2 separate regions of the Homo sapiens genome follow, and region 1 is linked to region 2. The links come from fine-mapping of genetic effects on gene expression. Tissue or cell type: lung. Region 2 holds a variant in brackets; the other region holds the start of a gene. All regions are shown on one strand. Distances are between the middles of the regions.

Region 1 (6,364 bases), 37 kb before region 2:
GAGCTGAATAGCGAGTGGGGGAGGCTGCATGGCCGCAGTGAGGTCTGGCTGACAATAGAGCAGGGCCTGGGTCATGGCTCATGGTCTGGTCAGGTCAACGGACACCCTAGTCATGGCTCAGAGGCTTCAGCAGGGCCCCGTGGGGAGGGTGTGGGGACAAGGTCTCCCTGAAGGCCGAGGGAAGCAGCTTATTCCCCGGAGCCAGTGGCTCTTGTCCTTTACCCGTTTCTTGCTGCACTTGTTTGCCCTTTTAGATCAATTTGCAGGAGTTCTGTTTTTATTCTGGATAGCAATTTTCTTGTCAGTTACAGATGCTGACAATGTTTTCCCTCAGTCTGTGGCTTGGCTTTTCACTTAAGGATTTAAAAATTATATCCCACAAGAGTTTAAGATTTTAATATAGCAACTTTTCTATTTTATTCTTTATGGCTTATGCATTTTGCATCTTAGGAAAATAACTATCTTTGACAGTGGCTTTTGACCAAAAACCCATGTTGTTTGATATTCATATCCCCACACCAGCTTCTCGGGCCTGGCTGACCCACGTGTGAAAAGCCTCCAGTTCTAATCGTTGTTTCTTGATGCTTTAGATGTTCGCCTATGAATGTTTCACTGTTTCTAATCCACTTACTTGTGTTCTCATTACTGATACATTTCAACACAGGGTCCTCATCTTCTCCTTGCCTGCAGTCTCTGTGCTGTTGCCTGCATTTTCTCTCTTCCTGTTTCTATTTCTGTAGTGGCTAACCTTAATGTGGGCATTTAACAAGGTCTAAGCAGGAGCTAAGCACGGTCTCTATTCTCCCAGAGCAGGGTCAGGACTGTGGGTGCTTCAGTGCCCTCCCCTCCCTCCCCCTCGAGTTTGCTCCTGTCAAGGTGGAGGAGGATCCCTCTAGCAATGACCCTGGGTTGGCTTCCGCCGAGGGCTGAGTTTAGGAACAGTCTCCAGGCTGTTGCTGTTTTCCTAGTCCACGCTTTCACTGAGGATGCATCCCTTGCACATCTGTGCTTCACATGGGAGTCGCCGTCCACCTCCCACCTGCTGGGAGCCTTAGCTTCATCATCTGTCCTGCTTCAGTGTAAAACCCAACCCCTGGGCCGCAGAACTCGCACCCTACCCACCCACCTGCCTGCTGTAGGACGGCAAGCATCTCTGCTTCTGATTCACGTCCTCTCCCCTTCCCACATTTGTCCCTGGTCACGTCCTTGCCTGTTCGTGAATCCACTTGTGCAATCGACATGATGCTTGCACTCAGCAGTGCTCCTGGGTGTTCGCAGAACATGGTCTGCCAAAAACAGAAGTCAAGAAACTTTTTTTTTTGAGACAGATTCTCCCTCTGTCACCCAGGCTGGAGTGTAGTGGTGCCATCTCAGTTCACTGCAACCTCCTCCTCCCGGGTTGAAGCCATTCTCCTGCCTCAGCCTCCCAGGGAGCTGAGATTACAGGCATGCACCACCATGCCTGGCTAATTTTTGTGGGGTTTTTTTTGGTAGAGATGGGGTTCCTACCAAAAAGACCATGTTGCCCAGGCTGGTCTCAAACTCCTGGGCTCAAGGGGTCTGCCCATCTCAGCCTCCCAAAGTGCTGGGATTACAGTTAGGAGCCACTGCGCCCAGCCAATAAATACCTTTTTTTTTTTTTTTTTTTTTTTTTTTTTTTTGAGACGGAGCCTCGCTCTGTTGCCCAGGCTGGAGTACAGTGGCGCGATCTTGGCTCACTGCAAGCTCCGCCTCCCGGGTTCACGCCATTCTCCTGCCTCAGCCTCCCGAGTAGCTGGGACTCCAGGGGCCCACCACCACACCTGCCTAGTTTTTTTGTATTTTTTTTAGTAGAGACGGGGTTTCACCATGTTAGCCAGGATGGTCTCGATCTCCTGACCTCATGATCTACCTGCCTCGCCTCCCAAAGTGCTGGGATTACAGGCGTGAGCCACGGCGCCCCGCCAAGAAAGACTTCTAATCAATGTTTTGTTAAGAAGTTACTAGACAGTCCTCCATCCAAATTCACTACCAGACACTGATATAATAGTATGAGTCTTTAGTTCATAATACTCAATGTTACTATATTTTTAAGAGTCCTAAAAGCTTTGGCAATTTTGGCAATTTTTTCTTCATTAGTTTCAAAATTTCTTTACAGTCATAATTTCTAACACAATTTTAACTTTTTTACTTTTTTTCATTGCTCAACTTGTTGCTAGATTTTCAGAAATTACAAGGAAAAACTGAAATAATAGAGCCGGGGTCAGTGTCAACATCAGCAGGGCACGGGGCAGGGCTCCCTGTCGGAGTGGCAGTGGGGGCTCCCGCAAGCTCCATCTCCTTCCTGTGTGCCCCTGCCCCATGCTGCTGCCACTTCCCTGGTCTCTGCTGGCTTCCCTGCCACCTTCCAGACCCTTCCTTTCGTGTGGCTAATTTTCAGGAGGGGCAGGGGCACAACCTAGCAGCTCCAACCTATGAAAGACTTTGTCAGTTGGTGTGTCAAAGCCAGCATCTTTTATCAAACAGACAAACCCTGAACGCTCGTGGTTTAGCACGTGCTTCTTCCTCCAGGCGAAGCCAAGTGCTGGCCATGGGCCTCTCCTCCAGGAAGCGACTCAGGACCGGCCCTCTGCAGCGCGGCCCAGTGACCCACATTCATTCTCCAAGACCTGCGCTGCTGGGCCTCTGAGGGGCCCCGGAAACATCCGGTGGCCACCCATCCCACTGGCATTGTTCCCACGAGGGTGCCAATGACTGCGCTCCTGGAGGGGCTGAGTTCGTCTTTGGGTCCAGGAGGTACCCAAAGCCGCTTGTCTGCTGGTGGCAGGTATGACAGACGTTTGATTCCCAACCTTCTCCGCTTTGGTTTCTTCGTTTACTGAATGCCCGGCGCCCACCTCAGTCCGCGGGAAACGAGGGACGCCCCTGCCACACTGCAGTGCGGACGACGAGGCCAACATAAAGACAGCAGGCATCAGCAGAGGATGGAGACAGCGGCTCTGGGGCTGTCTTCTCTCCGCAGGTTGGGAAGGGAAAGGAGAGAAAATGCACGCAGTCACGCTCGGCGGAGGCGTCCAGGACTGCGCCCGCCCTGGGGAAGGGCGCACGCGGTGGTCGCCAGGGGCAGCGAGAGGGCCTGAGTTGGGGGGGCTGGGACGGACAAGAAGCCCCCCACCTCGGCGGTTTCCCTGTCCTGCTGGGGAGCGGCCATGGGGCAGGTCCCCGAGCTGAAGTCGCTCGGCCGGGAGACGAGTACCCGCCCCGCGGGAGGGCCCGGACCCGTGCTTCCGGCGCCGTTGCCGGAAGCGGAAGTGCCCGCGCGCTGTCCACTTCCGGCCGGGACCCCGGAGGCGGAGGCAGCGAAGGCGGAGGGGGCGGCGGGGGCGGCGGCGGCGGCGGCGGCGGCGGCGGCGGCGGCGGCGGCGGCGGCGTAGCCGTAGAGGGTGAGTCGGTGGCAGGTCCTGACGGCCGGCGGGTCCTTGGGAGGTGGTCGCCGTCTTTCATCCTTGCTCTCCCTGTCTCTGGCTTCCGCGGGGGCGCGTAGGGGGAGGCCGGACCGGGACCTGGAGGGCGGGGAGGCCGTTCCGGACCCCGTGGAGTATCCCGCTCGTGCGAGTGTCCTCGGCGCAGGTGTCCTCCCCGGCACATGTGTCCCCCCCAGGCGTAGGTGTCCCCTTGGCACATGTGTCCCCACAGGCACAAGGTCCTTCCTGGTGCAGGTGTCCCCTTAACAGTGTCTTCCCCCACGCCCCAGGCGCTGGTGTCCTTCCTGGCACAGGTGTCCCCCCTCGGAGCAGGTGTCCCTCCTTGGGGCAGATGTCCCTCCAGGCACAAGTGTCCTTCCTGGCGCAGGTGTCCCCTCGGCGCAGGAGTTCTCCAAGGTGCAAGTGTCCCCTCAAGCACAGGTGTCCCTCCCAGGCACAAGTGTACTTCCTGGTGCAGGTGTCCTCTTGACGGTGTCCCCCCCCAGGCGCAGTTGTCCTTCCTGGCACAGGTGTCCCCCCTCGGACCAGGTGTCCCTCGTCGGAGCAGGTGTCCTTCTGGGCACAAGCGTCCTTCCTGGCCTTTAGGAAGCTTTCAAGGTGCAGGTGTCCTCCAAGGTGCAGGTGTCCTCCAGCGGAGTGTCCCCTCCGTGAGGTGCCTCCCAGCACAGGTGTTCCCCTCGGCGCAGGCGTCCCCCCGGTAAAGGGTCCCTCCTGGCAGAGGTGTCTGCCCGGCAGAGGTGTCTCCCTGGCGCAGGTGTCTCCGTGGGTGCTGATGTTCCCCGCAGTAGGGTGTCCCCCCGCTCGGCGGAGAGGCTCACAGCGGAGCCAGCGCCAGGGGAAGGCAGTCAGAAAGGCCCTGGTAGGGGCTGGACCTGGGTCTCTGTTTATGGTCTCTGAGTTCCTCTTTGGCTTCTGTGACCCAAAATCTTTAGTCTTCAGGCTGGGATGGAAGCCTCTGCGGTGCGTTTTTTAACTCCAGATTTTCCCCTTTTCCACATGAGTAGCTTTATTCTGACTCCAAGGCGAGCCCTGCTTCACAGCTCTCCACTCACATTGCCTTGGCTTCCACCCACAGCGTGACAGACTTCACTCCAGCCTTAAGATGGGCGCAGCCACCTCACCGCGTGCCCCAGCAGAGCGGCTGGGGGTCCACTTCTTGGGTTATTATCCAGCCCTATAATCAAAATCATACAGGCTTTAATGTCAATGGAAATGCTGATGATAATGTCCAAACAAAATAAGAAAACAAAAGTGTGCACCTACAAAGTCATATAAGCAGTGGAATCTTAGCTTTAAAAGAAACTCAAAGGGAAAAAACTGGAAGGAAACAAGCCCTGTTGGAGGGAGTTGCCCCTGAGTGTCGGGATTTAAGGGGAGTTGTCCCTGGGTGGCGGGATTTAAGGGGAGTTGCCCCTGAGTGGTGGGATATAGCGGGGGTTACCCCTGAGTGGTGGGATTTACGGGAAGTTGTCCCTGGATTGTGAGATTTAAGGGAAGTTGCCCCTGGGTAGCAAGATTTAAGAGGAGTTGCCCATAGATGATGGGATTTAAGGGGAGTTGCCTCTGGCATCTTTGTATTTTTGTCCTGTCCAGATTTTCTACGTTGGTATGCCAAATTTCATAATCAGAAAATAAAGAGAAAGGAAAGGTTGCAATGTAGGTCCAGATGAAAAAGGAGAAGAGAGGTGTCTGAAAGCATGTGGGCATGGAGAATGAAAAATTCCAGGAGAAGGTGAATCTTTTTAATATTCATGAAGATGAAAATCAGACAGCTGAAGTCAAGGGGAACAGGTGTATCGGATTCCCTCATTGACTGATGCTCACCAAGCAGCTGTGTTAGCTCCCCGAGGAGGACGATGGTGGAGGGAGCATGGAAGGCAGGCTTGCCTGGCATCTGAGCACCTGTGGTCTGCACGGGGCCTGCATAAAGGAGGGAAGCATGATGTTTTCTAGGACAGTTAAAAAAGGGGGAAATGGGGTTTTGGATACCCAAGACAATAATGACTTTTTCTTTTTTTTTCTTTTTTTTTTTTTTGAGACGGAGTCTCGCTCTGTCGCCCAGGCTGGAGTGCAGTGGCGCGATCTCGGCTGACTGCAAGCTCCGCCTCCGGGGTTCACGCCAGTCTCCTGCCTCAGCCTCCCGAGTAGCTGGGACTACAGGCACCCACCAACATGCCCAGCTAATTTTTTTGTGTGTATTTTTAGTAGATACAGGGTTTCACCATGTTAGCCAGGATGGTCTCGATCTCCTGACCTCGTGATCCACCCGCCTCGGCCTGCCAAAGTGCTGGGATTACAGGCGTGAGCCACCGGGCCTGGCTGACTATTGTCACTTTTATAGGGTGGGAATTGTGGGGCTTGTGCTGGGCCTCCAGCTGTGGTACCTGGTCGGGGGAGTTGTCCACGCTGTATTTGTCTTCACTGAGGGTCCTGGTGCAGCTGCCCACAGGCCTGGCCAAGGTGCTGGGGGAAAGCTCCCGAAATGAGAAACCAGCCCTGTCTTGGGGAGAGATGTGCCTTTGAGGCTGACATCTACATGCTGGGTGGTCTGGGACCCACATCTAGAATCTTCGCAATGTCCATGTCTCTCATGCCTGTGAAACGCCCCTGCTCTCCCCTTAAAGGTATAACTTCTGCATGTTTGTGTTACGAAGGTTTGTTTATCTTATCAAGGAGTTCCTCATCCTAGTTCAGCTTTCTTTGAGGTTTCCTGGATTAATGATCTCAGAGGCTCTGCTTGTAGCTCCACTGTGATCACCTGATAGTTTGGGGGAGGTTTTGTACCTAACATTTCTACCGTCCTAACAACTCCTGCAGTGCACAGAGAACACCCCTAGCATGAACAGTGTGAGGATTCCACCAGCTTTTTCACCATGAAGGAGACAGACCGGGAGGCCGTT
Region 2 (5,472 bases):
GATGAAGGCCAGGGACCCGCGGCGCTCTCCCTGTGGTCAGGAAGCAGCCCGGTCAGTGGCCTGAGCAGCCAAGCCCTAGCTGCTGCCATTGTGTGCCCTGGGGGGAAGCGCCCAGAGCTCGGGGCCCGGGGAAAGCCTTGAGACCTGAGCCCCGGGTTCACGCCTCACAGCTGCAGAGGGAGGGGTGGAAATGCCAAAACCAGGAGATCAGATTTTGAGCCCCTGTCCGTCTGAGGCCACAGCCAGGCTGCTGCCTGAACTGGGCAGAGGTCATGCTTGTGGGAGGACACAGTGGTCTGAGTGTGAAGGGGTAAAGCTGCCTGGGACTTGGGATGTGTCTGGGGAAAGTGTTGATACTGCAGAATCATTGAAGTGGTCTCTGTCCCTGCAGGAGACCCTAAAACTCCATTGGCCTCATGTCCAGAACTGAATCAGGTAGAGAACGGAGCAGAGCCCGATGGGGCACAGAAGCCACACAGCTGAGTGCCAGAGGATGGAAGTGGGGCCGCCTATGTGTCCTCAGACCCCACCCGCCTGATGGCAGGGCCTGGAGAGCATGAGGTTGTGCAGGAGCACAGGGCAGAGTGGGCTTATGGCTGGAGTCAGGGTCCCCAGGGCCGGCAGGGGCACGGGTGTGGAGGGAACGTCAGCTCACTGCACTCAGACCTCGCCAGGTGGGCACCCGTGCCGCCTTCAGTGTGCAGGATGCTCCCAGGGAAGCCCCCGGGGTCAGGTGGGTGCCGCTGTTCCCACTGAAGATGCGGCCCCCAGTTCACTGCCCACTCGGGGGGGATTTGAGGGTCATTGGTTCTGAGGGCCCTCCGCCTGCTCTTTTGCTTCTAAATCCAGCATCTTCTGTATGACCTTTGTCCCGCTCCTGCCACCCCACGAAGACAGACGTGAGGGTCAGGGGAGCCACGGTGCTAACTGCCACTCTGGGCGGGCACAGGCGAGGGCTGTGCAGCACCCGGGCACGTGGGGTCTTCGGAGGGGCTGCTCCCCACACCACTTCCCCTGCCCCTGCCGAGCCCTGCCGTGGGGTGGGGGGGCGCAGGGAGAGAAAGCAGCCGCCCTGGGTGAGAGCCAGGAGGGACACTGGGCAGGCAGATGCCACCCCAGGTGTGGGGACCCCCGCTACTGAGTGGCCGGGAGGAGCCCACAGGCTCCCCACATGCAGCTGAGCCCAGGGTTGTGGTCGTGGGTCGTGGGTCAAGGATGGTGGCTGGTGTGGTTGGGGGAGAGGCTCAAGGCCCGCCTGCCAACCTTGTCACCTATGTGGGGGTGAGGGGAGCCCGCCAGAGGCCAGAGCCCCCACTGTCCCTTCCCACCCTCCAGCCAGGCTCCAGGCCTCCTAGGGCCAGAGTATCTGAGCTTTCTCTCGCTTGCCGGGCCTGTGGTTTGGGGGTTTGTGTGGAGCCTGGTCCAGGAGCCCTCCTTCCTGATCTGCACTGGCTGGCCCTCCTGACAGCCCCAGGCCCCCGTGCCCTCTGCCAGGAGGTGCCTTGCCACTTGGCATGGCCCCAGTCACGGGTGGCACATCTGGGGTGAATGCACGTCAGTGGAGGCAGAATCATTCTGTCTGAATGAATGGAGTTTCCAGGCCCCCACTGGCCCTCTGTGTGAGGGTCTGCAGGGTTTGGCAGGACAGGTCTTTCTCTCCGGCGAGAGCACCCACCCTGACCGGCTGCTGGATGAGGGCACCAAAGCTCGCTAGGGAGGGCTCTGTCCTTAGGGAGGAGCTGCGGAATCCCTGCAGCTGTGCCCCCAGGCCCTGCCTTGCACACTTCCTGCAGCCAGGGCGCCCCTGGGGAGGTCAGGGCAGGCCGGGGAGGCTGAGGCCCACCTGCCATAGTGGGCAGGTGCGGGAGCCAGGGCGGCAGTGGCCTCGGGGCTGGGTGGGGCGCCTGGCCTCTGGTCTCTGGAGCAGTCAGGGGCTCTGCAGACGCTGAGAGGCCTGCTCATAGTGGACTGGGAGATGCTGGAGCAGCCTCAGAGCCATGGCCGGCCCACAGCGGGAGACGGCCCTGCTGCTGCCCCTCTGCCTGTGCGTGTGCACCTGTGGGCACCTGCGTGTGCTGGGGCAGGCAGGGCTGTATTGGGACCAGGTCCCGTAACAGCCTGCCTGCTTACCGTCTGCTCCCATCCCTGGGGAAAGCAAGGGAGCTCGGGGTCCTAGGACCTGACCTCAGCGCTCACCCCCACCAGCACCACAGTCA[C/G]CAGGACTCTGTGACTCAGTTTACCCCACGAGAGCCCCTGGGATTCCCAGGGCATCAGAAGGCCCATCAGCCTCCCGTGAACTGCTGGGGTGGGCCTGGCCTTGGGACGCGGGTGCAGGGGCCTCTCCTCACTGCCCCATGGCACCCACAGCCAGTGCCAGAGCCTGCTGCAGCCCCGACCCGGCAGAGCAAGCGGCTCTGCTACCTCAGCCACGTAGCTGATGGCATCCTTCAGGTTCAGCTCGTGGAAGACATTCAGGATCCGGTCTCGAGACTTCTGGGCCGACCGTCTCATGAGGACCCTGCTGAGGAACTTCCTGTCGAAGTGGGACCACCTGTAGGGACAGACCTTGGGTGTGAGCCTCAGGTGACAGGCGCCCTAGAGCCCGCCGGACGCGTGGCCCGGCCCCTTCTCTCCTGAATTTTGTTTGCTATAGTGACCCTGTAGGCGCGTTTAAAATGAGGGAAGCAGCCCCTGCCACACGCCCAGGCCGTCCGCCGTTCTCCCGCCTGTCCTGTTGGATGGAGGCCGTTAGACGCATATGAAACTGCATGCCGCCTCCTCCAGAGGGTGGCTCAGGACACGGTGGGTGTCAGGCCTGGTCAGGCAAGGGGGCTTTGGCCACATGGGGGGCACCTTCAGGTGCACAGGAGGAAGGGCAGGGGCGGACAGACACCCTGAGCCCTTAGACTTGTGGGAGCCAAGCTGACCAGAGTGAGGTTTTTTTTAGCCTAACGGAATTAGAGTATTCGCTGGTTATCCAGATCAGAAGGGACGGTGGCCTGGCCGGACTTAGAGGAAACTCTGGGGCACAAGGAGGTGATGCCTGTCACTTGGACATGGGTGCAGCCGCCAGAGCCGCCCTCCAGGGCACAGGGTGGGCCCGGGTGAGCTTGTGTGCTCACACCTGGGCAGGCCCCGCGGCAGCAATGGCAGCTCTCCTGTACAGGCTGAGTTTCAGCCACACCAAGAAGTCAAAGCTAACCGAGGCTGTGCCTTCCGAGACCCCCGGGATGGCCCCTGGGAGGCCAAGGAGTCGGGGACTGGGTACCCGGAGCAGAGTCACTGTGGCCACGGAGAACCGCAGCTGAGCTTTATGAAGCCACGTGGCCACACCTCCCGGTGCCTCCACCCCAAGCAAACACAGATCGCTCAGAAAATGGGAACCCAGGGCAAATTGTATGTGCTCCTTACTGGGTTTATTATAAGTGTCACATGTTTTTTATAATAAAACATAGGTGATTTCACCTTAATGGACAAACTCTTTTTTTTATTTTGGGACGAAGTCTCGCTCTGTCACCAGGCTGGAATGTAATGGCGCAATCTCGGCTCACCGCAGCCTCCACCTCCCGGGTTCAAGCGATTCTTGTGCCTTAGCCTCCTGAGTAGCTGGGATTACAGGCCCACGCCACCACCCCTGGCTAATGTTTGTATTTTTAGTAGAGACGGGGTTTCACCATGTTGGCTAGGCTGGTCTCAAACTCCTGACCTCAAGTGAGCTGACCACCTCAGTCTCCCAAAGTGCTGGGATTACAGGCTTGAGCCCTGCCAGACAAAATCATTTTAAATGTTGACTGATACTAACCCTGTTTATGACGTGGAGGAAATAATCTATTTGCCTTATTTTCAATTCCTACATAACAATTTGGAATTAATTGGGCCACATGAGAGGGCATCTCTATTCCCTGGAAGGAGCACAGAGAATTCAGCTCCTGTCCCCTCACTCGGTGGCCCCAACTGCTGCCGCCAACTCCTTTCCGCAGCACCTGCGTGTCTCGGGGCACACCTGGCACCTGGCCTCATGGGGCACCGGAGCCCTGACCAAGCCTGGACTCAAACAGTTGTTATGCATGTGGCTTCTGGTTCTTCCGAGTGGAGGATGTTTCCAGAAGCCGGGCTGTGCGACACCGCCGGGGCCGTCCCAGCCACTTACTTGTCTCTGAGATAATTGTGCCCGATCTGTCCGGATATGTCCTCGATGGCCGAGAGGATGTGGTCGAAAGCCTTTCAAGGGAAGAAAGACATGAGCGTCTCGGGGCGGCCAACCGGGGAACATGAGGTGCCCCTCCACTCCTGGCCCAGCCCCGAGGAACCCACCAGCCCCCCTCACCACGCCCCTGGCCTGGACGCAGCCTCCTCTCCCCTCCTGGCCCAGCCCCAAGGAACACACGGTGCCCTCCGCCACCCCCCAAGCCCCAGACCAACGCAGCCTCCTCTCCCCTCTCAGCCCAGCCCCGAGGAACACGCAGTGCCCCCCCCCGCCCCCCAGCCCCGCACGTATGGCGGCCTCCTCTCCCCTCCTGGCCCAGCCCCAAGGAACACACGGTGCCCTCCGCCACCCCCCAAGCCCCAGACCAACGCAGCCTCCTCTCCCCTCTCAGCCCAGCCCCGAGGAACACGCAGTGCCCCCCCCCCGCCCCCCAGCCCCGCACTTACGCGCCCGTGCAGCTTCTCGTTGAGCCGAGGTTCCCGGTGCTCGCTCCTCTTCACCTTCAGCCACTGCACCAGAGGCTTGATGGTCAGGCCCTGGAGGACAGGGTCTCGTGACCCTGGTGCCAGGCAGCCCCCCACATCCCGCTGGCCCGGCCAGGTGCACCACACAGAGCCACCTGCCCCGGGGCCCACAGGCGCCCTCCCTGCTCTCCGGGCACCCAGCAACCCGCGCCCCTGCTTTGCAGAGGAGGAAGCAGCACCCGGGGCCTCATCCACCAGCGAAGGCCCGGGAAGAACATTTTTAGGACAATTATGCTTCCTCCCCAGTGGGGCCACGTGAAAACCTACAAAACGGCTCCTAGTTACTAAAATTATGAAACCCAATTAGGGTCTGGAGCCTGGAAATGCTTGTCCTGAAGTGCGGGCCCAGGCTCCCCTCGCGGGCGGGGCCGAGACCCCAGGGCTGGCTGGGCTGGGCCTCACCTGGAAGATGACGGTGAAGAACACTACGATGATGGTGGTGCTGACGAACAGGTTCTTCTCCTTGACCTTGTCTCCATCCAGAAGCACCACCAGGGCAAAGGCCACGGCCCCGCGCAGGCCCCCGTAGGACAGGACCACCTGGTCAATGGGCTCCAGCTGCACCATGCGGTAGCGGTTCAGAAGCCAGGTCTGCAGGACCACACCTGCGGATGATGGGGCGGGCACTCAGCTCCCCGGCCGCCCTCCCAGCCGCGGGACCCCAGCCCCTCCGGGACAGCGTCTTGGCGGCCAAGCATGTGCTGACGAAGAACAGCGGCACCCTAGATACGGCGTCCCCAC

Evidence for each region. PIP is the estimated chance that this variant, and not a neighbour inherited with it, causes the effect.
Region 1: it holds the start of EXOC3-AS1, and the variant in region 2 is fine-mapped to the expression of EXOC3-AS1 in lung (TOPMed, PIP 0.97). The same link has a PIP of 0.9 or more in caudate.

The regions. Positions count from the first base shown.
Region 1 is chr5:439,869-446,232 of GRCh38, forward strand. EXOC3-AS1 (EXOC3 antisense RNA 1) reads right to left here and starts at 3,292. Exons shown (of 1, transcript NR_126522.1): 1 at 1,967-3,292. EXOC3 (exocyst complex component 3) reads left to right here and starts at 3,308. Exons shown (of 13, transcript NM_007277.5): 1 at 3,308-3,422; 2 at 6,282-6,364. The coding sequence starts at 6,338. RefSeq lists enhancers at 1,040-1,099, 1,110-1,169, 2,753-2,802, 2,823-2,932, 3,703-3,832 and 2 more and a silencer at 3,013-3,402.
Region 2 is chr5:477,415-482,886 of GRCh38, forward strand. SLC9A3 (solute carrier family 9 member A3) reads right to left here. Exons shown (of 17, transcript NM_004174.4): 7 at 5,134-5,336; 8 at 4,654-4,743; 9 at 4,151-4,221; 10 at 2,422-2,551; 11 at 1-30. SLC9A3-AS1 (SLC9A3 antisense RNA 1) reads left to right here. Exons shown (of 7, transcript NR_125375.1): 5 at 392-435; 6 at 2,368-2,802; 7 at 2,948-3,478. Among named protein-coding and RNA genes, the nearest start is that of SLC9A3-AS1, 6.9 kb to the left of the region's middle. RefSeq lists an enhancer at 750-919. The variant C/G (reference allele first, on the strand shown) is at 2,217.